Regions from separate parts of the Homo sapiens genome. Here all the other regions are reported to be linked to region 6. Evidence: microRNA targets listed by miRTarBase, many of them from high-throughput screens and not tested one by one. Region 6 holds a microRNA gene; each other region holds the end of a gene's coding sequence.
Evidence for each region. The annotated mature microRNA hsa-miR-4316 reads GGUGAGGCUAGCUGGUG and lies in region 6 at 1,270-1,286, opposite strand. An mRNA with a match to its seed (bases 2 to 7 or 8) in the 3' UTR can be bound and repressed. Matches are read on the target gene's strand: a 7mer-m8 pairs with bases 2 to 8, a 7mer-A1 pairs with bases 2 to 7 and ends in A, and an 8mer does both.

Region 1: the mRNA of GARIN3 is a reported target of hsa-miR-4316. Seed matches in the 3' UTR shown: 7mer-A1 at 3,395-3,401.
Region 2: miRTarBase lists HSDL1 as a target of hsa-miR-4316. Seed matches in the 3' UTR shown: 7mer-A1 at 2,544-2,550.
Region 3: the mRNA of SEC24A is a reported target of hsa-miR-4316. Seed matches in the 3' UTR shown: 7mer-A1 at 3,315-3,321 and 7mer-m8 at 1,908-1,914.
Region 4: the mRNA of SCYL3 is a reported target of hsa-miR-4316. Seed matches in the 3' UTR shown: 7mer-A1 at 855-861.
Region 5: the mRNA of MRPL44 is a reported target of hsa-miR-4316. Seed matches in the 3' UTR shown: 7mer-A1 at 3,066-3,072.

What each region holds. Positions count from the first base shown.
Region 1 is chr5:157,158,887-157,162,976 of GRCh38, forward strand. GARIN3 (golgi associated RAB2 interactor family member 3) reads right to left here. Exons shown (of 2, transcript NM_130899.3): 2 at 2,960-4,090. The coding sequence ends at 3,561. Among named protein-coding and RNA genes, the nearest start is that of GARIN3, 5.3 kb to the right of the region's middle.
Region 2 is chr16:84,120,949-84,125,038 of GRCh38, forward strand. HSDL1 (hydroxysteroid dehydrogenase like 1) reads right to left here. Exons shown (of 6, transcript NM_031463.5): 6 at 1,193-3,780. The coding sequence ends at 3,682. Among named protein-coding and RNA genes, the nearest start is that of MBTPS1-DT, 6.0 kb to the left of the region's middle.
Region 3 is chr5:134,724,709-134,728,798 of GRCh38, reverse strand. SEC24A (SEC24 homolog A, COPII component) reads right to left here. Exons shown (of 23, transcript NM_021982.3): 23 at 890-3,819. The coding sequence ends at 3,705. Among named protein-coding and RNA genes, the nearest start is that of CAMLG, 12 kb to the left of the region's middle. RefSeq lists a silencer at 1-49.
Region 4 is chr1:169,850,324-169,854,413 of GRCh38, forward strand. It overlaps SCYL3 (SCY1 like pseudokinase 3), which reads right to left. Exons shown (of 13, transcript NM_020423.7): 12 at 3,947-4,090; 13 at 1-3,449. The coding sequence ends at 3,390. It overlaps FIRRM (FIGNL1 interacting regulator of recombination and mitosis), which reads left to right. Exons shown (of 25, transcript NM_001320047.2): 23 at 1-22; 24 at 1,494-1,613; 25 at 2,467-3,757. The coding sequence ends at 2,664. Among named protein-coding and RNA genes, the nearest start is that of SCYL3, 42 kb to the right of the region's middle.
Region 5 is chr2:223,966,302-223,970,391 of GRCh38, reverse strand. MRPL44 (mitochondrial ribosomal protein L44) reads right to left here. Exons shown (of 4, transcript NM_022915.5): 4 at 2,678-3,529. The coding sequence ends at 3,358. Among named protein-coding and RNA genes, the nearest start is that of MRPL44, 11 kb to the right of the region's middle.
Region 6 is chr17:77,395,759-77,399,848 of GRCh38, forward strand. MIR4316 (microRNA 4316) reads right to left here and starts at 1,296; the gene lies at 1,226-1,296. All of the region lies in intron 2 of SEPTIN9 (septin 9), which reads left to right. RefSeq lists an enhancer at 2,169-2,887.

The DNA.
Region 1 (4,090 bases), not on the chromosome of region 6:
AGGTGATCCGCCAGCCTCAGCCTCCGAAAGTGCTGGGATTACAGCCATGAGCCACAGCACCCAGCCATCACATGGACATTTCTAATGGGAACATGTCTTTCAAAACATCTCCTGTAATCTCATTTTATAGATCCTGCAGCAAAAGACAGGAATTACATAAGGACACATATTAACAACTACCTTCCCAAATATTTTTTTCTCACAGCAACTACAGTGACCTTTACAAAATACAAATCTGATCAAGTCACTCCTCAACTTAAAATGTTTCAGTGGCTTCTCATTACTAAGGACAGAAGTCAAAGTAGCATATGCGAACCTCAAAGCCTTGCACAGTCTGTCCCCTGCTGCTCCCTCTAGCATCTCGCCTTCCGTTCTTGCCCTGCCAGCCATGATGGCATTTGACATTTTGAGGCACCTTGCTTCTTCTCACCATAGACCAGTTTCCTCTGCTTCAAAGACTCCACCCTAACATGACAACTGCATGAGTGATCTTATACTGCTTTTGGCAAAATATCGCTTTGTCATCTTTGTTCTTATGTGTGTAATGCCAGACTTTAAGTTTGGAACATTGGTTAGTAATCGACCATCCACTGTCTCATTGCACTTGCAGCAGCAGAATTGTTACCATGGTGACAAATATTGCCGTTAAAAATATTGGCTTTTATCTGATAGGGGTATTGACTTGATGCCCCAATTGATAACTCCCTCTGAGGAAGAGGCCTGTTGCTTTGAAATACATAGGTATTTATGCATCTATCTCTTGATGAAGTATCAAGATAGAAAAGGAAATGCAGAGAAAGTGCATGGCACAGCACGCTGTGGTGGGCAAGTCCCCATCTCTACTTTACTTAAATTGCATTTGGGTGGATAAACTATATTCATGCTGAAGAAGCCCTCAGACAGGGGAGGGTGTATAAAACAAGACTAGAAGAAAGACAAAAGATAAAGCCATAGTCTACACAATTATGAGATTAAACCGTTTGTAGCTAGGATAATTCAGACTCTGGCATAGCTGTAAACCTGGAACTCCAGACCAAAGGCTTTGAAAGGAGTTTCCTTTTATCTCTCTCCTCTACCCCACCTGCCAACCTTTCACATTCCCGGGTGGCTTTCCCAAAGGCCCTCTCAGACTTTAGAGTATGTGCCTCTCTCTCTTTCTCTCTCCTTCTACCTGTACCCACTGTTTCAAGAGTCAACTCCCAGAACATCTTAATCTCAGCCTCTATGGTATTTATCAAAAATCACAAGATGAGATTTTCCAGCCACCCACTAGAGCAACTGAGAAGGGATTCCCCTGATACTGACAAGCCACCGCTCCTCCCAGAATACGTCGCTTCTCACCTCCTCCATCTTGGCTACACATATTTGGTGTTCAGAAAAGGTCCCTAAGTTTTGCCGGAAACCCAACTTCTGTCCTCCAAGGTACTGCTGCTGCAGAGAATGAGCAAAGACTTGCAAGGCTGGGCAGGTGCTCCCCTCCTGGACTTACATGGCTCCCAGAATCATTTTTCTCAAATCCAAATTTTATTATTTGGTGTTAATAATTTAATGTTTTCCATGGACTCATTTTACAGGTTTTTTAAAAACGGAAAGACAATTTTTTTTTACAGTAAAGGTTTTTAAAATTTATAATCCCATTTCTAATGTAGTGTGATTTTTTTATTCTGGGAATTAACTTGCACACGAACACATAATTTACATCATGTTAGTACACAGCATTTTGGACTATTTTACTTCTTAATATATTTAAACATTTTTCCGTGTTTCTGAATACTTTTTATGTCACTTAGAATTTTTATTTCATGCTTATTGAAAGATCTTTCAGACTTAGATATTCTGTCATAAATCTGTCATGTGTATGTGTAAAAAGGAAAACATTGGTGAAATAAATTGATTAGGGCATTTCTAAGGCAGTGATAGTGACATGCAATTGACACCTTGCTGACAGATTTAAAAACAATCCTGATTTCAGAGATATTAAAATAAAGATACAGTAACAACACCCCATGAATACAACCTCTTCTTTAAGAAATAGAATAATCACTATTCTGTTGAAACTCCTTGTGTGTGCCCCTCAGATCAGACATCTCTCCCTTTATCCTATAGATAGTCACTATCCTTAATTTTGTGATTATCATTTCCTTGTTTTTCTCTATACTTTTAGCAAATATATATCCCATTGTTGAATCTTATTTTTGAGCTGTTCTACAAATTGAACTATATCATATATATTTTTGTGACTTGCTTTTAGTATCCCACATTATGTAAGATTTATCCATGCCAGCCACACATGGTGGCTCATGCCTGTGATCCCAGCACTTTGGGAGGCCGAGGAGGACGGATTGCTTGAGGTCAAGAATTCGAGACCAGCCTGGCCAACATGGCAAAACCTTGTCTCTAGTAAAAATACAAAAATTTAGCTGGGCATGGTGGTGCATGCCTGTAATCCCAGCTACTCCGGAGGTTGAGGCATGAGAATTACTGGAGCCTGGGCAGCCAAGGTTGCAGTGAGCCAAGATTATCCCACTGCACTCCAGCCTGGGCAACAAACTGAGACTCTGTCTCAAAAAAATAAAAAATAAACATTTATCAATGCTAACATGTATAGCTGCTATTCATTTTCACTATTGTAGATTATGCACTGTAGTCCATTCCACAATTTATTAACTCTCCTGTTTGATGAACATTTGGGCAATTTCCAGGGTTTTGCTATTACAACTTGTTTTACTGTAAACATTCTCCTAGTTGTCTACTGGTAAGCATATGTGAGAATTTCTCCACTGTCTACACCTTGGAGGAAGACTTGTTAAGATTAGATCAAGAGTCAGCACACATTTTCTTAAAGGCCCAGATAATATTTTAGATTCTGTGGGCCATATGGTCTCCATTGCCACTACTCAGAGCTGTCATTTTTAGCGTGAAAGCAGCCATAGGCAATATGCAAAGGAAAGTCTGTGACTATGTTCCAATAAAACTTTATTTACAAATCCAGGCAGCTGGTAAGATTTGGACCTCAGAACATGATTTGCCAATTCCTGATCTAGAAGAATAGATTTCCTATTCTAATTGCCTACAAATACTGCTGTATTGCTCCTTCCTACCCTGAATATCCCCTGAGGGGATGTGAATCCTGTCTCTGCATAGGCTAAGAACTGGACTGAATGTCCATGTTCAGGGGCATTCAGGGAAAAGAGGAGAATGGGCGAGGGGACATGGTGGTGGCCATGCATCCCAGCTCTTAGTCTGTGGCTTTGACAGTCTCGGGGAAGCAAAAGGGATTGAGGCAAAGCTGAACACTCACGTTGGCTCTGCTGGCCGTGGGCGGGTGGTGGAGCTCTACTTGCCTGGAGGCTGGGGTCTCCAGCTGTAGCATAGCCACCATCACAGAAGCCACTGTGAGGTCACCACCAGGCTATGGGCAGAAAAATTCAAGCAGGAGATTGTATTTCTTTTGGAGTTGTACGATTTCCTTTATTATTTGAACTGCAGTAAAGAAAGCTGGGATGGGCTCCTCTAGGGATACTTCCAGATCCCTGGGCGGTTGTAGCCCTGGCTCCTCTTTAAATGGATTTGGTTTCAAAGACGATCATCTCCGTCTTCTCGGATGTCATAGTGCCACTGATCATCTCCAGCTCCTGGCCACCCTGGGCTTTCTCCACTTTGGCCTCTATGTTTTGCTTCTCCACCATCTTAGCCACGATATCTACCTCTCTGTCATGTGATGTGACCCTTGTTTTTGAACCAGGAGTGGCCCTGAGGCTCCTTAAAAAAGAGCTGATCTTACTGGCTTTCTTTTGTAAAGCTCCTGTGCTAGATGCAGATTGGTTCTTCCCCAGTTCCTGAGTTGTTCTCGACTCCTTTTTGGTGGAGCTGTGGGTGGAGCTCTTGCGAGAGGAGCCATGTCGCTTGCCCCTTACGTTGCTGTACCCTTTTTCTTTTTTGTCATCTCTCGTGTTTTTATGGCCAGATGCGGACCGGTGGGAAGACGCTTTCTGATTCTTGTCCCCCGCTCTCCTGCGGTGACTTTCACCTGCCTTGCGGTGATGAGAACTTTTCCTACTGGGATGTCTGTCCTTCTTTTCTCTTCTTT
Region 2 (4,090 bases), not on the chromosome of region 6:
CTCGATTGATCATAGGTAACTGAAACCTCAGAAAACAAAACTGTGGATAAGCGGAAACTACTGTCCACAAAGCATGATGACACAAGTCCTGCCCCACTGTGTGTTCCCATCCAACTCACTGATGGAGGTCACCCCCCTAAGTATTTCCACAACCACCTGAGCAAACACTTACTGAAGAAGGGTGTCAACGTCACGCCACGGGAAGGCCATGAGCCTGCCCACCCCCTCCCCCGGGAGCACCTGTCTCCATGCCTGCAGCACCATCATCCCGCCCTCAACAGTGGCGCTGTGCGGGGCTGGCCAGAGCACATCGCCCTCGCAGGGGGGCTTGCTGTGGAAGTGGAAGTTCTATTTGTGCACGTTCCAGAGTGGGTTCTAGAGCTGCCTCCCTTCCCTTTCAGTCTCACCATAGGAATTACACAGAATATTTTTTTTTTTTTCTTTTGTGACAAAGTTTTGCTCTGTCTCCCAGGCTGGAGTGTCGTGGTGCGATCTCAGCTCACTGCAACTTCCGCCTCCCGGGTTCAAGTGATTTTCCTGCCTCAGCCTCCTGAGCAACGGGCATTACAGGGGCGCGCCACCACGCCCGGCTAATTTTAGTATTTTTAGTAGAGACGGGGTTTCACTACGTTGGTCAGGCTGGTCTCAAACTCCTGACCTCATGATCCGCCCGCCTCGGCTTCACAAAGTGCTGGTATTACAGGCGTGAGCCACTGCACGCGGCCAGGAATAACAGAGAATATTTCTACTGAATTCACGACTGTCCTGTGCTTGGCTTTATACTCATTAAACATATATGAATTTTTAAAAAGATAAATAACACATAAGCCAATACTGAGACTGAGACATAAATTGACTGGAATAGGTTTTGAGGACATAACCATCTAACCCTCTGGTTCCCAAATGTGATTAGATTTTAAGTAATTGAGGATAGGAAAACACAGGAAAGTCTCCTAGGAGCTGTCTCTATCTGCTCTCTTCCCTTTTTTTCTTCTTCCCACTCTTTCTTGAATCCATTACAATTCTAGCCTGAAGACTGAAATGGCTCATGGAAAAAAATCACCAATGATCTCCATCCACACAGCCAAATTCCATGCTCAAATCAATCCTCACCTTACTCAACCTACCAAGAGAAAGAGATCCAGAAGTCAACCCAGTAGCTTCCAAAGACTAGGCACATAGTTATAAACAATTTTGTTACTGACGTGTCAGCTTTTAATCAGTTATGACCACTGTTGTTCATGTTAATTTCTTGCAATCACTCCTAAGAAAAAAAAATTCTCTCATTCCAAATTACAAACAACCAAATTACAAACATCTGGAACAAAACTCTTCCAAAGGAAACAAACAACTACTTTTATTGTTAAACTTTCAATTCACAGATTAACTTTCAAAGGTTCATATTTCCCACGTTCTTTTTTTTTTTTTGAGACAGGGTCTCGCTCTGTCTCAAGGCTGGAGTGCAGTGGCACGATCTTGGCTCACTTCAACCTCTGCATCCTGGGCTCAAAAAATTCTCCTGCCTCAGCCTCCCAAGTAGCTGGGACTACAGGCATGCACCACCCTGCCTGGCTAATTTTTGTATTTTTTGTAGAGACAGGATGTGTTCCCCAGGCTGGTCTCGACCTCCTGGGATCAAGCGATCCACCTGCCCTGGCCTTCCAAACTGCTGGGATTACAGGTGTGAGCCACCGCACTCGGCCCCTATTTCCCACATTCTTAATGACACCCCATCCACAGTGGTCCAATCAACTTTCAAATTAGCTCTGGGGAAAAAAATACATTTAATGAAAGCTAGAAAACCTAGAGAAGGTCTTGCTCTTCATCTTTCACTGCAGCTATGGACAGCTCGGCACCACATTTGCACCAATCAGCATGTTTGCCCATGTCCTGCCAAGGAGAGAAGTTTACATCATCACTGACAAGGTGTGTTCACCTATTCTCATCACGTAACACTGATGGATTCCATACCTAATTTATCAATCTAAGACATTACTGGACCACGTAACCTTACATATAACTACCTGACCATATTTTCACATGAAGTTGCTGCTGCTTATTATACATCAAAGTTCACGTCAATGTGGCATGAAGTCAAGAGGATTCCAAGCAAACTCCATCAAAACCTTGGGGCTCACAGCATCTCCCAGTGTGTAGATTTTCACATCTAAGTTCTGAAGACATGATCTAAGCGTGGAAGAGCTTCTGAAGTTGACCACTGATCTTCTGAGTGCAAGTCACATCTGGAAATCCTGTAGGCAATGTCATGGGCAAAATTGTGTTCATAAAACTGTGCTTAGGTCTGCTTATGATAGATTATCACGTCACGAAAAAAATGCCACAGAAGTCCAGACTTTTAACCAATCTACTAGCTTCTGCATCAGTATCACAATGCCGAGCTCTGAATTTTAAATGTGCACATATTGTCATATTCATATAGTGACTTAGAGTTTTCAAAGCACTAGGTACATGGTCCTCAAAAATGGTTGGCTTTATATGACCCAAACTAAGGACATTTCACAGGTTTCAATGTTAACGCGTATTGTGAGGGTTTGTGCATAATTATCTTCACACCAGTAAAGGTATTCACTACAATACATAAATTCATTACACAAACCAAGAATAAGCTTCTAACTTATATTGACAGATATGTCACACACGTAATTTGTCCATATTTTACTATTCCATAAATACTTACTATTTCTATCAATAATGCTACTGGAATGGAATAATATTACATAGAAAAACGTAGGAAAACCAGATATAACAAGCTCTAAAGGGCTAAATTTCAGTTATAAAATGGGTCAGAGGCTGAGAAATCACTATTTATCCACAAGAATTGCCTTATAAATCAAAAGATGACTGCAGGTTTCTCTTACATATCCAAATCTAGGAATAAGTTCATTCCATAGCAGATTTGAAAAAACACAAATATAATGTAGGAAGTAATATCATTCATGGCAAACCAACAGCATGAAATTTGGTAGGCTTATTTAGGATGAAAAGGAATAATCTAGATTGTTTTAATACCCTATAAGAGTCCATGTTAAGTCACCCTGACAAAAAATCTTTTTAAAAATATGGTAACCATAAATAAAGTTGCTCAAAGGCACCACACACACGCACACACACGGTTCTCTAATGAAATACCAGTTGAAGTGCAGCATTTTCATTACAGATAGTCAAACAGCTAGAGCTATACAATACACACAGATTTTTCCTAATAGTACCAGCAATCTTAGTTACAAAATAATACTTTTCAGTAGTCTTTCTTGATGCACATTTAAAAACCAGCACAACTCCTCTAGTGAAATGGTCAATTTCCCTTAAAAAACAACATCTGAAATTATAAGACCTGACAAATCATATTATATTTCAATATTAGACTGCTGTGGCTCTAGAACAACAGAAAAGCGTAACTTTCAAACAGCTTAGGGAAAAAGCACTGAAATGTAGATGTCGTCAATCAGCCTCAGGCATTATTGATCCTGTGCCATCCACACACCCTTAAGGTTTTTCACAGCACTCTGACGGTATTATGTGTGTTTTGCAAATGACGAATCAACAGTATGCTGAATAATCAGCAATGAAACACAGGAGATAAATTAAATGTGTTTTTCCAAATGTCAGAATATCGAGGTTCCCAGGAGTTGGCAAAACTTCTCAAGTGGCCATCCAGACTCAGGCTGTGCAGGATAAGGCTTCCTTACGTAGTGAACGGTTGAGAATATTTGCTCCCCACACCCAGAGCCATTCAGGCATATACTGTGCAAAAAGAAACTAAAAATGAAAGAGAAAAAGGTTGTAAGGTTAGAACCCAAAATCAACACTGAAGGAACAAGTACACAGACCAGCACATGAAACCCACCAATCACAACAAATACCCACCAATCAATCACAACAAATACCCACCAATCACAACAAATACCCACCAATCAATCACAACAAATACCCACCAATCACAACAAATACCCACCAATCACAACAAATACCCACCAATCAATCATAACAAATACCCACCAATCACAATACACACCAATCAAACAAATACCCACCAATCACAATACCCACCAATCAAACAAATACCCAC
Region 3 (4,090 bases), not on the chromosome of region 6:
TGTATTTTTAGTAGAGATGGGGTTTCACTATGTCGGCCAGGCTGGTCTCAAACTCCTGACCTTGTGATCCTCCCATCTCGGCCTCCCAAAGTGCTGGGATTACAGCACTTTTTTCTACTGGGATTACACTTTTTTTTTTTTTGAGATGGAGTCTCGCTCTGTTGCCCAGGCCGGAATACAGTGGCGCGATCTCAGCTCCCTGCAACCTCCGCCTCTCGAGTTCAAGCAAATCTCATGCCTCAGCTTCCCAAGTAGCTGGGATTACAGGCACCTGCCACCATGCCCAGCTAATTTTTGTATTTTTAGTAGAAACGGAGTTTCACCATATTGGCCAGGGTGGTCTCAAACTCCTGACCTCAGGTGATCTGCCCGCCTCGGCCTCCCAAAGTTTTGGGATTACAGGCATGAGCCACCACACCTGGACTTTTTTTTTTTTTTTTAGATGGAGTTTTGCTCTTGTTCCCCAAGCTGGAGTGCAATGGCACGATCTGGGATCACTGCAACCTCGGCCAGGGTTCAAGCGATTCTCCTGCCTCAGCCTCCCAAGTAGCTGGGATTACAGGCATGCGCCACCATGCCTGGCTAAGTTTTTGTACTTTTAGTAGAAATGGGGTTTCACCATATTGGCCAGGCTGGTCTCGAACTCCTGACCTCAGGTGATCCACCTGCCTTGGCCTCCCAAAGTGCTAGGATTACAGGCGTGAGCCACCACGCCCAGCCTACTTTTAAAAACTATTTTGTAGAGACAAGTTTTCGCCACCTGGCCCAGACAGGTCTTCAACTCCAGGCCTCAAGTGATCCTTACACCTGGGCCTCCCAAACTGCTGGGATTACAGGTGTGGGCCACCATACCAGGCTCATATCACTTTAAATAACTAGTCACTATATATAAGCTCTTTTCAATTAACTTTATTGAATAGCCAAGTTGATAAGTTAGCATAGATCAAACAATGGTCTGCATGGGTTACAAATGACTTTTTTTTTTTTTTAACAGGAATAAAACAGTGAAAATTACAAACTGTAAAAAGGAAGACAAATCTTGTCTCCAACTTTTCAGAGAAGCAAGATTTAACACAGCACATTGAAGATCAATACATATTTGAATTTAAGAACAAGAATTTAATATTACAATATTATACACTACTTTACAAAATTAAAATTTCTATATAAGGATTACATTTGTAATAGTTAACAAAATTTTGAAATCACATTTGGTGGTCCCCTAGATAATAGCTGTTATGCATCTTTGATTAGAAGAAATAAATCTTTATTCTAATTATTGCAAAACAGTCTATTAGACTCAATACATTAAATTAAAAACAGTGAAAATATATGCAAACTAAAATAAATGGTACTGCTTGAGTGACTATTAGTATGTCAGACTTACAGAAATGTTATTTTAAAAATCCTAGAAATTAGAAAAATAGAGTACTTTTTATGGTAGAACTGCCATGCTCAGATTTAAATACCAAGATTGCCCTTGTCTGTTACATTAGTAGTTGTAGATCTGTAGAAAATTCAAGGATCTTTCATAATTTACAACTATAATTAAAAAAAATATGGCATAGTGTAAATATTAGTCGCTTTACATCAAAAAGTAATACAAGATGATATGGCAGGTAGTGCCCTATTGGGGGAAAAAAAAAGAATCAAACTAAAAAACACATTCAACATTGCAAAAAATAATTGCCTTATATCAGTATCTCCAAAGGCTCATTCATTCTCTCATTATGTGGAGAACAAATATTGTGAATCCTAACTAAAGTTATGTTTTTCATGACCTGTTATAAAATTATTCTGAATTGCACATGTTACACCGTATCTAAAATAATATTTAAAAGTAAATTTGTGAAATATACTAAAAAAGCATGTGGTAATAACAAGAGTCATACCCACTTAGGGATGTAGTGAGGCACAAGGAAGATTATCCCTAAAAGCACAAATGTTTCCCTCTAGAAGATTCTTTACTACTAAGAAAGGACCTACAAATAACTCCATTTAAAATCACATTAAGAGGAACATTTTAGTTATTTTAAGAAACATCAGCATATAACGACTGTTTCTTTAAAAGAGGGGATAATATAATTCGCTACAATTTGAAAATTGCTTCTTAATAGATGAAGCAGCTTTCAAGAAAACTTCCAGTTCAATGTGCCACTTACACACTGCAAACCAACCTTAACACTGCTTAAGGGAGATATTTTCATAAAACATGATTATTTTGATCCAGCTGGCAAGCAGTAGTTGTATACTGTAGAGGGACTGCTTCTTCCCTATCCCAAACAACTCAGTTAAAGTCAGCTCATATTGATATAAACCTGGAAGTTACTATTCCATTGGTGATCATATAAGACCAAGATTGTAAACATTTTCTAACCCATTAAAACAAAACAAAAAACCCAAAAATATTTTGATCAAGTATTATACATGAACATATTTAAGAAATTCTTAAGACAAAATGAATCTGTGAAAACTGAGCCAAACTCTTAAAGATACTATGTCACAGCACTTTAAATATACAAATGTATAATTTACCTATTTGTAAACAAAATTCACTCAATAGTTTTGACTATAATATTTCTCTAGCTGAATCAAGAAAGCAGTCTCTTAAGGATTTTCAGAAGTCAAGTTTCTTTCATAACTTTAATATGTTGGATGTGTATAATCTTAATATCCACCAAATCAAACAGCAGCATTTATGCTTTCATAGATTTTCATATTCAAGCATAAATATTTCTTATGAATGACTTCCAATTTAACAATTAAACTCCTTAGAAAAATGTTACTGATGTATTTGGATAGCACTTTAGAAACCTTTCATTTCTTCACTCATTTCACCAAAAACCCCCACTTTTATTATATACCCAGAGCAGAAATGCACCAAATAAAATCCACTTAAAGGATCAAGATAATTAAAGTTTCTTATCTCCCTATTATCATTGCTAGTCCCAGTGTTTATGAAGACAGCTCAAATTCTTTTCACTATAGATTAAGACAGTATGTCCAACTCTTCATCAGGAAATCAGAAAACCACCTAATGATAGTTCTCACTTCAAATCAAAGTGACTTTGTTCTTCAAGCATAAAGAATACTGACAGATTTTAAAGCTTGAATGTGTTTCTTCATATTTTTCTCAAGCTATACTAGAATTAGTTTAGTTTTAGTCAACATGATCCTTTCCCTTAACAAAGAAAAAAAAAAGACACGTGTGGGGAATGAATTCTAGTTTTCCTACATTATATTTACTTTCCATTGTTTTTATTTTAAAAACATCACTACCAATCAATTTGTAACTTCCCTGCAACACTTAGGTTTGTGAGGTTTTAAATGTAGCAGCCAAAGATTCAGAAAAATTAAAAATGAGAAATATACATGTAGAACACAGAAATCTTTATTTTACAAAATGTACTTTGCCTCTGCAATATTCTTATTTTAATCCATAACAACTCAAACATAATTGGCAAGAAAAAAGTATCCAATCATACGTAGCTATATTCTGATTTGAAAAATACAGTATTTCAGAGTTGCATGTTTGATTCTCTGCTGTGGTCTTTTATTTGCTATAGGTTGTTGAAATCACAGTGAGAACATCTCAATCATCACATTAGTCCACAAACATAATAGAAAAAGAAGGTATTACACATTTCCAGGTATTCTGCACTATCGTGACATTCCTTAAAAATAAGTCAAATTTCTTCATTCATTCATTTATTCACTTGTTGCTGTATATGCAACAGGAATTCATAATATGATAATGCAGATTCTGTTCTGTCTTCTATCATGTTTTGAAGGAAGTTTGCTTTCATTGGACTCTCATCCCTTAGGAATAAAAGGCAAAAAAATTTAGATAAAATGTAGCAGTAAAATAGACTTGTCAGAAGGCTTTTGATTTCCTCATAACCCTAATAACATTTACTATATAAACAGTTACTTCTAGAGGCTTTCTCTGAGAATACTTGGTTGATTATGTAAATTTCAAGTTGTTTAAGGGAAAAGCTTATGGTGGAATTAAGAGAAATAGTTGATCCAGAAATTCCATTTCTGAATATATATCCAAAGGAATTGAAATCAGTATATCAAAGAGATGTCT
Region 4 (4,090 bases), not on the chromosome of region 6:
AGTTGTATCCTTTCTGGAGAAGGTACTTTCTTTACATGGCTCATGTTTTATTCTTTGTCCTATTTTTTTTTTTCCGAAATTATGTAACTGTAACCAACCTGAGTGTCTTCTTAGCTTAAACTTTTCACAGTGCTGAGCACAGTGCTGACGACTTTTACTAAGCAATTGAGGCCACAGAAGTAAAACACTTGGGGCCAGGCGCGGCGGCTCATGCCTGTAATCCCAGCACTTTGGGAGGCCAAGGTGGGTGGATCATGAGGTCAGGAGTTCAAGACCAGCCTGGCCAACATGGGGAAACCCTGTTTCTACTAAAAATACAAAAATTAGCCGGGCATGGTGGTACGCGCCTGCAGTCCCAGCTACTCGGGAGGCTGAGGCAGGAGAATTGCTTGAACTGGGGAGGTAGAGATTGCAGTAAGCCAAGATCATGCCACTGCACTCCAGCCTGAGCGACAGAGTGAGACTGTCTCAAAAAAGGACACTTGTAGTTCCTCTGCCTGTAGTTTGGGGTGTAATAGCACTGATTATCCAGGCAGTGAGATGACTAATGAGGATCCCTAAGCTATTAATAATCATAATTAAATACACTTGATCACATAATTAGGTAGGCCTGAGAGGATGTTTACTACCATATTTTGGGTATAATTTAGGCATGGCTTTTTTTTTTTTTTTTTTTTTTTTTTATTTGGGCAGCCTCCCAAGCCAGGGTAAGCTCAGGGCCCTTTTTTTTTTTTTTTTTTTTTTTTTTTTGGCATGGCTTTTTTATTCTCTTTGCAGCCAAGACCTGTTTTTACAATTAAAACCAAAATTTTGAATCACAAGGTTCCTATGTCTATGCATACTTGGGAACTTAGTGTGAGGAAATAATAGTTAATTGAAATACTAGTGGAACTGTTAAACCACAAATTTAGACTACCAGGAGAAACTGAATTATTTGATATATTACATGTAATGATGCACGTTATATATTTTACATATATTACATATATATTTTTTTAGGTGAAATGGGCCCACTTGACTCACTGAACTTTATTTTTTAGACAGAGTCTCGCTCTGTCGCCCAGATTGGAGTGTGGTGGTGTGATCATAGCTCGCTATAACCTCAAACTCCTGGGCTCAAGCATTCCTCCCACCAAAGTCCTGGGATTAGAGGCATGAGCCACCACACTTGGCCTACTTATATTACATCTAAGCTGGATTTTAAGTACATGTGTATACACTGCTGTTGCCAGTTTCTTAGCTTATACAGTAAAGGTTAGCAGACTATCATTTTTTCCTGCAAAGACAACTCTATAACTAACTATTTTGTAAGGAAGAACACAGTAGAGTGATTTAATCCAGATTATACTAAGAGTATTTATAGATCAGTCCATGTGACTTCCAGAATTTGCCTAGTATGGTTGAACACTCAGCACTTAAATTATGTGGCCATTTCATATCTAGTAGAGTGCTAACATGTTGCTATTTGCTTGGTTTTTCATGGTCCCTGGCAGACTGGGTTTGTAGATGAAACTGAAGCTGCCAAAGTGGAACGTGTGAAACAGGAAAAAGGTATTTTCTGGGAACCCTTTGCTAATGTGACTGTAGAAGAAGCAAAGAGGTCATCTTTACAGGTATGGGCTGATTTCAATAGGGGCCAAACTTTAACAAGGCAAATTCTGCCCTTTTTACTTACTGACGAAACAAACCAGTGTGGTTTCCAGCCTTATGCTGAATTTCAAATCAAATAGATCTAGACATGTAAAATTCTGTTTTATGGTAGTTGCTTTTAAAATTAAGAAGTGGGACTACACCATATCAAATATATTCTTTCAGTATGTTTGAATTATTGGTAGTAACCTTTAAGGGAAGTTACATATTGTACCAGTGATGCTATAAATGCAGTCTTTACTGAACCACAGAAGAAAATGAAAGAAACTTACTCCTAAATGTTTAGTTTGATTCCTTGCCTTATTAATCAAATGAGTCTCCTAATAATTTTTGGCAGTAACTGAAGATCACATCTACTTATTAAAAGGCAGAATTTGACACCAATAAGGATATTCAAAATATTGTTTTGAGCACTATTAGTATAGTAATTAGTATAGTAGTAATTCATGAAGAACAACATTCTGATAAGTTTTAGTCAAACTCTCATAAAAAGAAAATACATTTATGAACTTGTTTATAAGACATGTAAGCTTGGACTATGCAGCACTTCTCATTGGGAGCCCTTTGGGACAGGATACTTGTTGTATACCACATACAAACTAAGACACTGGTAGTAGCACTCTGAATTGCTATGATAAACCAAAATGCCTTTACATATTTTTCTAGATGACTGTGTAGGGGTTTTGGGGTGCATCCTCCTACCCTTGTGATCCAATGACTAGAATAAAATTTGCATGTAAGCTTTACTCCAGTCCAAAAGGAAGGTTCTTTATATTTAGAATGGATATTGTGATATTACTTATGTTTTTTTTCCAGCCTTATGCAAAAAGAGCTCGTCAGGAGTTCCCCTGGGAAGAAGAGTACAGGTCAGCGCTGCATACAATAGCAGGGGCTTTGGAAGCAACTGAGTCACTACTCCAAAAGGGTCCTGCTCCAGCCTGGCTTTCAATGGAAATGGAGGCGCTCCAAGAAAGGATGGATAAGCTAAAACGTTACATACATACTCTAGGGTGAAACTTATCACTAGGCAGAACTGGGTTTGATGCTTTGTCAACTGAAAATACTTATGTCTGTACATTTTCTAACAGATATAAAACAAATTTTGTAAAGTTGAATCTAGTGAAAATAATCTTTATTTGACATTTAGAGAACAGGATTGTGGGGAATATTCTTATTAAGAACTTTGGTACAATGTACTACATGTGGAACAGTCAGGAACTGCCTAGGTCCACAAAGAACCATTTACTCAGATAGTCTAACTGTAAACAAATAAATAAGCTGCCTAAGGAAACCTCAGCAATTTAAAATCATTTATATAATTTATAGCTAAAATTTTTTAAAGTTGTATTTCATAATAGAGCTTACTCTTATGTTAAAGAATGGCACAAAATTAAGCTAACCAGCTTGAATTACATTTTCTTTACTTCCAGAATTGTCCTGGAAAAAGCAGTAAATTCGACCTCTCCTCAGCTACTTGCTCTTCATAGAAACTGGCCTCAGTCAAATGCACAAAGGCTCTTCCTCCTGGAAACCAGTACTGTGAGCCTCACCACCCAGGGCTTTTAGCCAGCACTCACAGTCAGTCTCCTACTTCAGTTGGCACAGACTGGATAATGAGCTCCTGGGATGGGAAAAGCAGGCCACTTTGGGGTTTTCTTGTCCCAAAGCCTGCTTTTGAGGTATTGATTTTTTTTAAAAAAAGGGAATCCTTTTTCCTAAAGTTTAACTCACATCTATTGTCACCAGTTATTATCTTCCCAGTTCAGCTCCCCTTCTTCTTCCCAGCCTTCAGCCTCTCCCTGCAACAAAATAAAGCACACCAAGAACCCACTGAAACAAATCATATGCAAAAATCATACGCAAATTTGAAAAAGCAGGAATTTAAAATTTATCTTTTGATGCCAGAAACACTACCTCGTACTAAGTAAAATAACTTAGAGCTCTAACAGAAAGTTGAAAAGTAGGATTACAAAACCATGGCACTGGAAAATAGCTTTTCAAAAACCATAAAATCCAGTAAAAATCAGTGTGGATGACACCAAATCCTTATTTTAATCCCTTTTTTTTCTTTTTCAAATAAAAAGGTTACAATAGCTCATTAAACAAACTAAGCATTGCTACATTTTTCTGGGGGAAGGAAAGATAGATACCAATGATAGAAACTGATTTTGTTAATTTTGTGCTTGACTTGACTAGGAAAATAGCATGTTGCTTGTTATAAATGGGATACTGCAACTAGGACCTATGAGGGAAATCCTAAAGCTAGTAGCACAGTTTACTCCATAAAAGTACTCACCTCAGTAATTTCTGCTGCAGCAAATTTTGAGGAAAACTGCATCACTGGGGAGACATCATCCTTTTTTGGGACCATTTCTGTCCTCAGTTCAGGTAATATAAGAAAAGCAGCAGAAGGCTTAATTTCTGGGATCATATCAGCAAA
Region 5 (4,090 bases), not on the chromosome of region 6:
AGTTTACTTTCTTGTGACCACATACAACACTTTGAGAAAAATATTCCTCATTATACATATGCATATAATAAAGAGTATGAATTTAAAAGAATAGGGGTTATGTAATTAAGTCTGTAGACATTAATGTTACATTTTTGGCTAGAGGATTTTTTTGGTACAATTATACTTTGGGCACAGGGAACTGGAGAGTGGGAAAAGGTGGAAAAAGTCAGAATTTCAAAGTAAATGACTAATGTCTTCCTCTGGTGTGAACCTAAATTCAAATGTCAGTGCTTCCAGTCTTATGACTGTCTTCTCAACATGGACGAGGCATTAGTCAAAGAGCTAGTCCTTCACATGGTCACTGAATGCTCTTGGTCACATGCACCATTTGATGACATTCTTGTACCCACATGTTCCTTCTACCCACATATCATACTTATGCAGTTAGGCTCATAGGACAAATAGCTACTCAGAGACTGGTTCCAAATTTCAAGCTATATTTGATATGCAATTGAAAATGTATGTCAATTTTTCTAAATTTTCTACATTTCTACCCTATTTTAGAGGGTGCTTTTAAAAAGTACAACAATTTAAGTTCAAAGAAGGCTTTACTTAGAAATATGTTGAAATTACATTCTACATAAGGCATATGGATCTCTACTTGCAAAGTAGTTTTATGAACTAGAGCCAGACTTGTCCCACATGTAAATTTGGAAGCATTCAAAGTTTAAAAGTTTGAAAACCTAAAAGGATAGTTCCCCTCTAAGCTTGCAGGGTAAGGTCCTGCAAACTCCCCTGAGCAGGAGAAATTTGGGAACGCACAATCAGCACTATTTAGCGGGGGGGGGGGGGGGGCGGGGAGGGGGAAGAAAAGGATTACTGGGTTTGCAAATGAATTCCCTAGACTTTCTTAATGTTTACCTTAAAAAAAATTAGAATCATACCACAGCTAGATTCTGCCATCTCACAGATGCTGGATAAGTGGTCAGAAGACATGTCTTTTGCTTTCCAGAAAAGTTTGTCATATAATCTCTTTTCTCCTACAGTGCCAATGAGATGCTTATCAAATCATGTTTACTTGTGAGTAACACATATAAATGGCATTTTACCACTGGTTTTGGTCCTCTATCCTTGTGTTCCATTACTAGGAGTTGAAGTTAACTCTGAAAAAAAGGTAAAATATAGTTGACCCTTGAACAATGCAGGGATTAGGGATGTTGACCCCTCATGTAGCAGTAAATCTGTATATTAACTTTAAACTTCCCAAAAACTTAACTCCTAATAACCTATGGCTGACTGGAAGCCTTACTGATGATATATTAATAAATAATCAATTAACACATATTTTATTATATAGATTATAAACCTTATTCTTACAACAAAGCTAAAAATATTAAAGAAATCAAAGAAAATATATTTACTATTCATTAAGTGGACACGGATGATCAAAAAGGTCTTCATCCTTGTCTTCACGCTGAGTAGGCTAAAGAGGAGGAGGAAAAGGGGGATGGTCTTGCTGTCTCACGTTGGCAGAAGCAGAAGAAAATCTGCATATATATACTGATCTGCACAATTCGAACCCACGTTGTTCGAGGGTCAACTTTAACTCACTTTTAACCTGCCAATTCAGTCAACTAGTTAATTTTTCAAATTTTCCCCTCCAAAAAGTCTCTGCTTTACCTTTGGGAGCTATAAACCCTGTAAGATAACTCAAGTTCCACTTTCCTAGCCAGGCTCAGGAAAGGCATTTCAAAGTTCCTTCATCTTTCTTTATAAAAAAATGTCAGGCCGGGCACAGTGGCTCACGCCTGTAATCCCAGCACTTTGGGAGGCCGAGGTGGATGGATCACGAGGTCAGGAGATTGAGACCGCCCTGGCCAACATGGTGAAACCCCGTCTCTACTAAAATACAAAAAAAATTAGCTGGGTGTGGTAGCACGCACCTATAGTCCCAGCTACTCGGAAGGCTGAGGCAGGAGAATCGCTTGAACTCAGGAGGCGAAAGTTGCAGTGAGCTGAGATCGCGCCACTGCACTCCAGCTTGGGCAACAGAGCGAGACTCTGTCTAATAAATAAATAAATTCATGGCAAATGTACTGTTGGTTTTAACATTTTACCTCTTTTCTATTCTCAACTCGTAGGTCCTGCTATTCTTGTTAACCCCTGGGAGTGACTAATGGAAGACTCAAACTAAAAATTACTGTTGCCAAAGTTTTTAACAAATGATAAATCAAAAGGAATTTGCAGTTAGGGGATTATTGAACTGACCACAAAGGATTAGAAAACCAAAACCTCTCTACTGAATTAAATGTGTTCCAATACTTACAACACTGCTTGGTACATACTATTATTATGACTAGAATACTAAATTGAACTAATACTGGCTTTATTTTCCCTTCACCATTAACATTTTAAGCTGTTTTTGAGTTTCAACTTCTTAGAAAAGGCAATTTCTGAAAAGCATAAATTTGCCTTTTCCTGCTATTTATAATAGAAATTGAATAAGAAACATACTAGAAGTATACATAATTTTAAACTTAGAATTTAGGGATCATGTAAATAGCTGCCTACTTATAATCTGTACTATGCATTTCCCAAAGAGTTTTAACATTACTATTTTAGTTAAAATTGTATTACAGAAGCGAAGTTCATCAACCTCCTGCCATTACTGGGTATATCAAATTAAAATGCAATGTTAACATGTGGAGAAAAAAAACTTTATTGGTATTACAGCAAAAAATTCACATAAGATACATAAATTATGATACCTCAAAGCTAGACGCAAATAAAATACACCTAATTATACAAATTCTATACAATTAAATCAAGAACATTAGGAAAATTTTTTTGCAAAAATGTCAAAAAAAGATTTGATCTGGTCGGGTATAGTGGCTCACACCTGTAATCCCAGCACTTTGGGAGGCCAAGGCGGGTGGATCACCTGAGGTCAGGAGTTCAAGACTAGCCTAGCCAACTTGGTGAAACCCCATGTCTACCAAAAATACAAAAATTAGCCAGGTATGGTGGTGTGTGCCTGTAATCCCAGCTACTAGGGAGGCTGAGCCACGAGAATCGCTTGAACCTGTGAGGTGGAGGTTGCAGTGAGCCGAGATCGCACCACTGCAGTCCAGCCTGGGCGACAGAGTAAGACTCCATCTCAAGAGAAAAAAAAAAAGATTTGATCAAACCAAGATTTCAGAAAAACAAAACCAAAAACACTGTGACTTGGTTAACACTTATTTAATTTTGGGAACACAGTAAAAAACAGAAACAAAACATCTATTTCTTCACAATTGTGAAAATGTCTGGCTTGAAACACCTTTGACATTTATCTCACTTTCGCTCTCAAGTTTCAGGCTGCTGCATCCATGGCGGCTAGCTGGCAGTGATGCTCTTTTCTGCTCTCAAGGTTTCTTTGGGCTTGGAATAGTTCCACGGCCGTCTATTTTCTGTGAATCCATAAAGTTTTCTAAGGGCCACTCGAGCAGCCTCTTCTTCTGCAACCAATACTGTTTCCCCAGGTCCTTCTGCAATCAACTTTTTATCACTAGAAAGAGAACAAACAGTAGTCTTAAATTACATGGAATATTGTAAGACAGTACACAAAGCAGTTATAAAGCAATTATGCCTTCTACATCTATTTCAATAATACCCATTAGAAGTAACACAATAGCTCTGATAGATCATCTTTTGGATTTTAACTAGATTTGTTGCAAGTTCATTACATATGGTAATTAGACAAAGATACACTTACGTTTCCTTAGAAATATATACAACTCTGTCAAGTCAAAAAAGCAAGTCGTATCTAGGTTTTCAATTGTTGATGAGAGAATTGGAAGAATATGTAAATAAATATCTCCCTACAAAAACCTGAAACTAGTAAAAATATTATCAGGAATTATGACTATTTTTATTTTTAATGTGTGATATAACTTGGGAAAAATAAATATCTCCTTACAAAAACCTGAAACTAGTAAAAATATTATCAGGAATTATGACTATTTTTATTTTTAATGTGTGATATAACTTGGGAAAAGATTCTGTTGAAAAAATTATGCCTTTTGAGTCTGTCATTTAAACTTTAACACAAATAAGAAACCAGAAACCA
Region 6 (4,090 bases):
CTGCTATTTTTACTTAATATTCTCGGCATTTCTCATCTTCAAAAATGTGATTTTAATGATGGTGCAGGCCTTTGACATATGGGTTTAGAAAATCTGCGGAAACCCGGACTGTTTCCAGGTTTTGTCAGTTTAATGCTGATGCAAATGTCCTCGTACGTAAATCTTTCTGTACTTCTGATTATTTCCTTGGGATAAATTCCCAGAAGTGGGCCAAAGCACATGAACGGTCTTCAGGCTTTTGGAGCAAGTTGAGATCGGTGGGGATTGGAGAAGGGACCCAGGGAGGCTTTTGGGAGCTTGCGAGATTGGAGTCTGGCTTTAGGGGACTTGAATTCACAGATGAAGGAGATGGCTGGCAAAGGTGGGAACCTCCTGCTCTATGGGTGGGGGGGTGACACTGCTTTACCTTCCAGTGACAGCATGGGGATCCTCCCAACATGACCTGGCTCCGCATCTTTCTGACACTGTGCACGGTCCACAGTTGTGATGCTCAGCTGGGAGCCTCTTCTGTGTCCTTCAGTTGCATTAACTCCTTGCAGACAGAGGAGGAAGCTGTCCGGTGCTCCTCCCTGCTGCGTGGGTCCTTTGAATCTGCCCAGTTGGGCCTGTGGATCTGTGCAGTCACGTACGGGGTTCTAAAATCTGCAAAATGACAAGCTCACGAACACTCTCGCTTCTGTGGGTGAATGTGGATACCCCTTGGCTGCGTCTCCCTCCACAGGGAAGATGGAGACGTGTAAAGTGACAAGGACCTGCTACCCCTGGGCAGGTTATGCCGGTTCCACTGTGAGGATGGTGGCAGGGGGCTTCCCAGGAGGCCTGCACATTGGGAAGAGAGGGGCGACCGTGTGTGACTGCAGGACCCAGGGCGCAGTCTTAGGACTCTGATGGGGGAGGAGATGCTGGGGAGCCCTGTTCTGCCAGCCTGGTGACAGACATCTCCTAATGTTTCCCGGCTGGGTACAACTCACAATGTCCTCCGTGGGGAGGCAATTGCCCATGAGGCATCCCTGGCAGGGATGATCTTGTTTCATTGCCACATATCCCAGCAATGAAACAAGAATCTAGAGTGATGTGATTCCTCCGATGACTTCTCCAACCATCTGGGGTTTTTGTGCGACTCCAAGAAGGGGGAAGGAGGCAGCTCTCGCTCCTCTGGGCTCCTGATGTGGCAGCTCTGGAATGGCCACGTGTCCGTTGGCCCACAGTGGGCCATTTGTCGAATGTGGTTGTGGTGGGATTGGGGCTGGGCTGGAGAGTGGGTGACCACACCAGCTAGCCTCACCCTGGGCCACTGTGCAGCCAGGGGTTTCATCTTCCCAGGGGTCTCGTTGTGAGTGTCCTGGGGCTGCTGGAACAAATTACTGGAAACCAAGTGGCCCAACAAAGATTGATTCGCTCATGGTTCTGGAGGCCACAAGTTTGACATCAAGGTATTGGCAGGACCACACTCCCTCCGACAGCTCGAGGGGAGGACCCTTCCTTGCCTCCTCCAGCTTGCGTTGGCCCAGGCGCTCCTTGGCTCTGGCAGCATCTGCAGTCTCTGCTCTCATCACGTAGCCCTCCCCACCGTGTCTCTTTGTGTCCCAAGTCCCCTTCTGCCTTTCTCCTATAAGGACACCGAGCACTGGATTTAGAGCCCATCCCAAATCCAGGATAGTCTCATCCCGGGATCCCTAATCACATCTGCAAAGACCCTTTTTCCAAATAAGGTCACATTCGTGGGTTCTTGGGGTTAGGTATTAGACATGTCTTTTTGGGGGTCACTAGTCAACCCTCTACAGAACCTCAGACGAAAGTGAATCTTCACAGGCTGAAATGGGGGTGAAGGTCTAGTGCGTCCCTCCTCCTTGGGAGCTCCCTCAGGGCTTGTGCCTATCCTGTGATCCTGTGATCCAGCCTTTTTTTTGAGATGAAGTCTTGCTTTGTCGCCCAGGCTGGAGTACTGTGGCACGATCTGGGCTCACTGCAACCTCTGCCTCCCGAATTTAAGTGATTCTTCTGCCTCAGCCTTCCAAGTAGCTGGGATTACAGGCGCCCACCCCCATGCCTAGCTAATTTTTTGTGTTTTTAGTAGAGACAGGGTTTTACCATGTTGGCCAGGCTGGTTTCGAACTCCTGACCTCAGGTGATCCGCCTGCCTTGGGCCTGCCTTGGCCTCCCAAAGTGCTGGGATTACAGGCATGAGCCACCACGCCTGGCATTTAGTAGGTTTTGGTTGTTTTTTTTTTTTGAGACAGAGTCTCACTCTGTCATCCAGGCTGGAGTGTAGTGGTGTGATCATGGCTCACTGCAGCCTTGATCTCCTGGCCTCAAGTGATCCTCTCACCTCAGCCTCTCGAGTAGCTGGGATTACAGGCATATGCCACCACCCCTGGCCAATTTTTGTATTGTTTAGTGGAGTCGGGGCTTTGCCATGTTGCCCAGGTTTGTCTTGAACTCCTGGGCTCAAGCGATCTGTCCACCTTGGCTTCCCAAAGTGTTGGGGTTACAGGCGTGAGCCACCACGCCTGGCTTAGTAGGTTTTCTAGAAGCGCCTGAGGCCTGGTGAAGGCATGGTGTCATGGAGTAGAGAACATTCAACTCTGTTCCCGGGGAGCCGGAACACACCCCTCGTAGCCAATCTCAACAGTCATGACGTGGCCAGGATGACATGGGGAGGGGGTGGTGTGGACTGTGTGGGAGGCCAGCTCCCCGGGAAGGGGGCTGGAGTGGGCTTGGCTTTGAGGAGGATTCCCAAGAGGAGGAGGAGGCGGTGGCATGCTCGTTTGGGGGGATGGCGTGAGCCAGGGTGGGCACCTCTTCATTTAGGTGTCACCTTCTTGACATTCCAGCCGGGACATGGTTTCCTTGGGGAAGATGGACACCCCCAGAGTGGGGCATCTCCTGGGGAAGATGGACACCTCCGGAATGGGGCGCCTCCTGTTCTCACTGTTCTTCTAGCACACAGTTGTATTCTCTTGCAGTTCTGGAGGCTGTGAGATCTCCTGGCTGTTATCTAGAACAAACTCGCCTTTGAGCAGCGCCGTCCTGATGGTGGGGTGGCCCCTGCGGGTGGAACAGCCCCTGCTGTCTCAGAGCTTACTGAGAGCTAGTGGGCATGGGAGTGGTGCTGGACCGAAACACCCAGAGGGATCATAGAGCCAGGCAGTAAGCACAGAGGCCAGCTAGTGGGGAGGGAGGGACCCATCCATGAAAAGACACCAAGCATTGAAAGAGAGGAGAGGATGGTTGGGGACCGGCACACATGTGCATTTTGCGCAGATGGCCAAGGTGGTGAGGCGCCAGCCACGCAGACAACTGGAGGAAGGAGGAGTGCCCTAGGGGAGGGGCCAGCTCCGGTTCTAGAATGATCCGCTTGTGCACGTGGGCCTGGCTGGAATAAATCATTGCATCCGCACCGTAGACTCAATCGTAAGCTCACACCAGGGCAGCCTCTGCTTTGGTGCAGTGTCTTCGATCATGAGTTGGCCATGGTGGGGGTGACTCCAAGGGGACTCCCAAGGAGGGGGTTCACCGGATCTCCCAGGGAAGGTCATTTGTTTTCTTGGGTTGGACCTGGGACAAGGCCTTCTCCTGTCTAGTTTCTGTTCTCCAACTTGACCGCACGGAAGGATGCTGAGGACACCTGGAAGCCGGCCCCTGCTCTACAGCACCCATAGGACAGAGGCACACCATGTGGGGACAGTTTGGACAGTGCTCAGGAGGCAGGGAGCAGATCAGAGGACCGCGGGAGGCCCTGGGAACCGCACGAGGACCCAGGCATTGAGCTCTGCACTTTCTGGCATCAGCCCGATGTACAGTCTGGCTCTGTGTCTACCCCGTACTTCACTTTCCCCATCTGTACGGGGGCGGTAATAATATTCTTTACAGCCCAGGTTTAAGCGGGTGTAGATGTGATGAGCTTGGTAAGCCCATCTCATTACATTCAGTTCTGGGCATTGAACCCTGGACTTTCTGGCTGGTAGAAGTGGACATTCAACCTTTCCTTGGGGCCCTGGGGCTTCTGCAGAATCAGAACACAGCCAGCAGTTTGCATGCAGGGTGCAGAGGGACAGAGGGACACCATGTCGGGAGCCCACACCTGGCA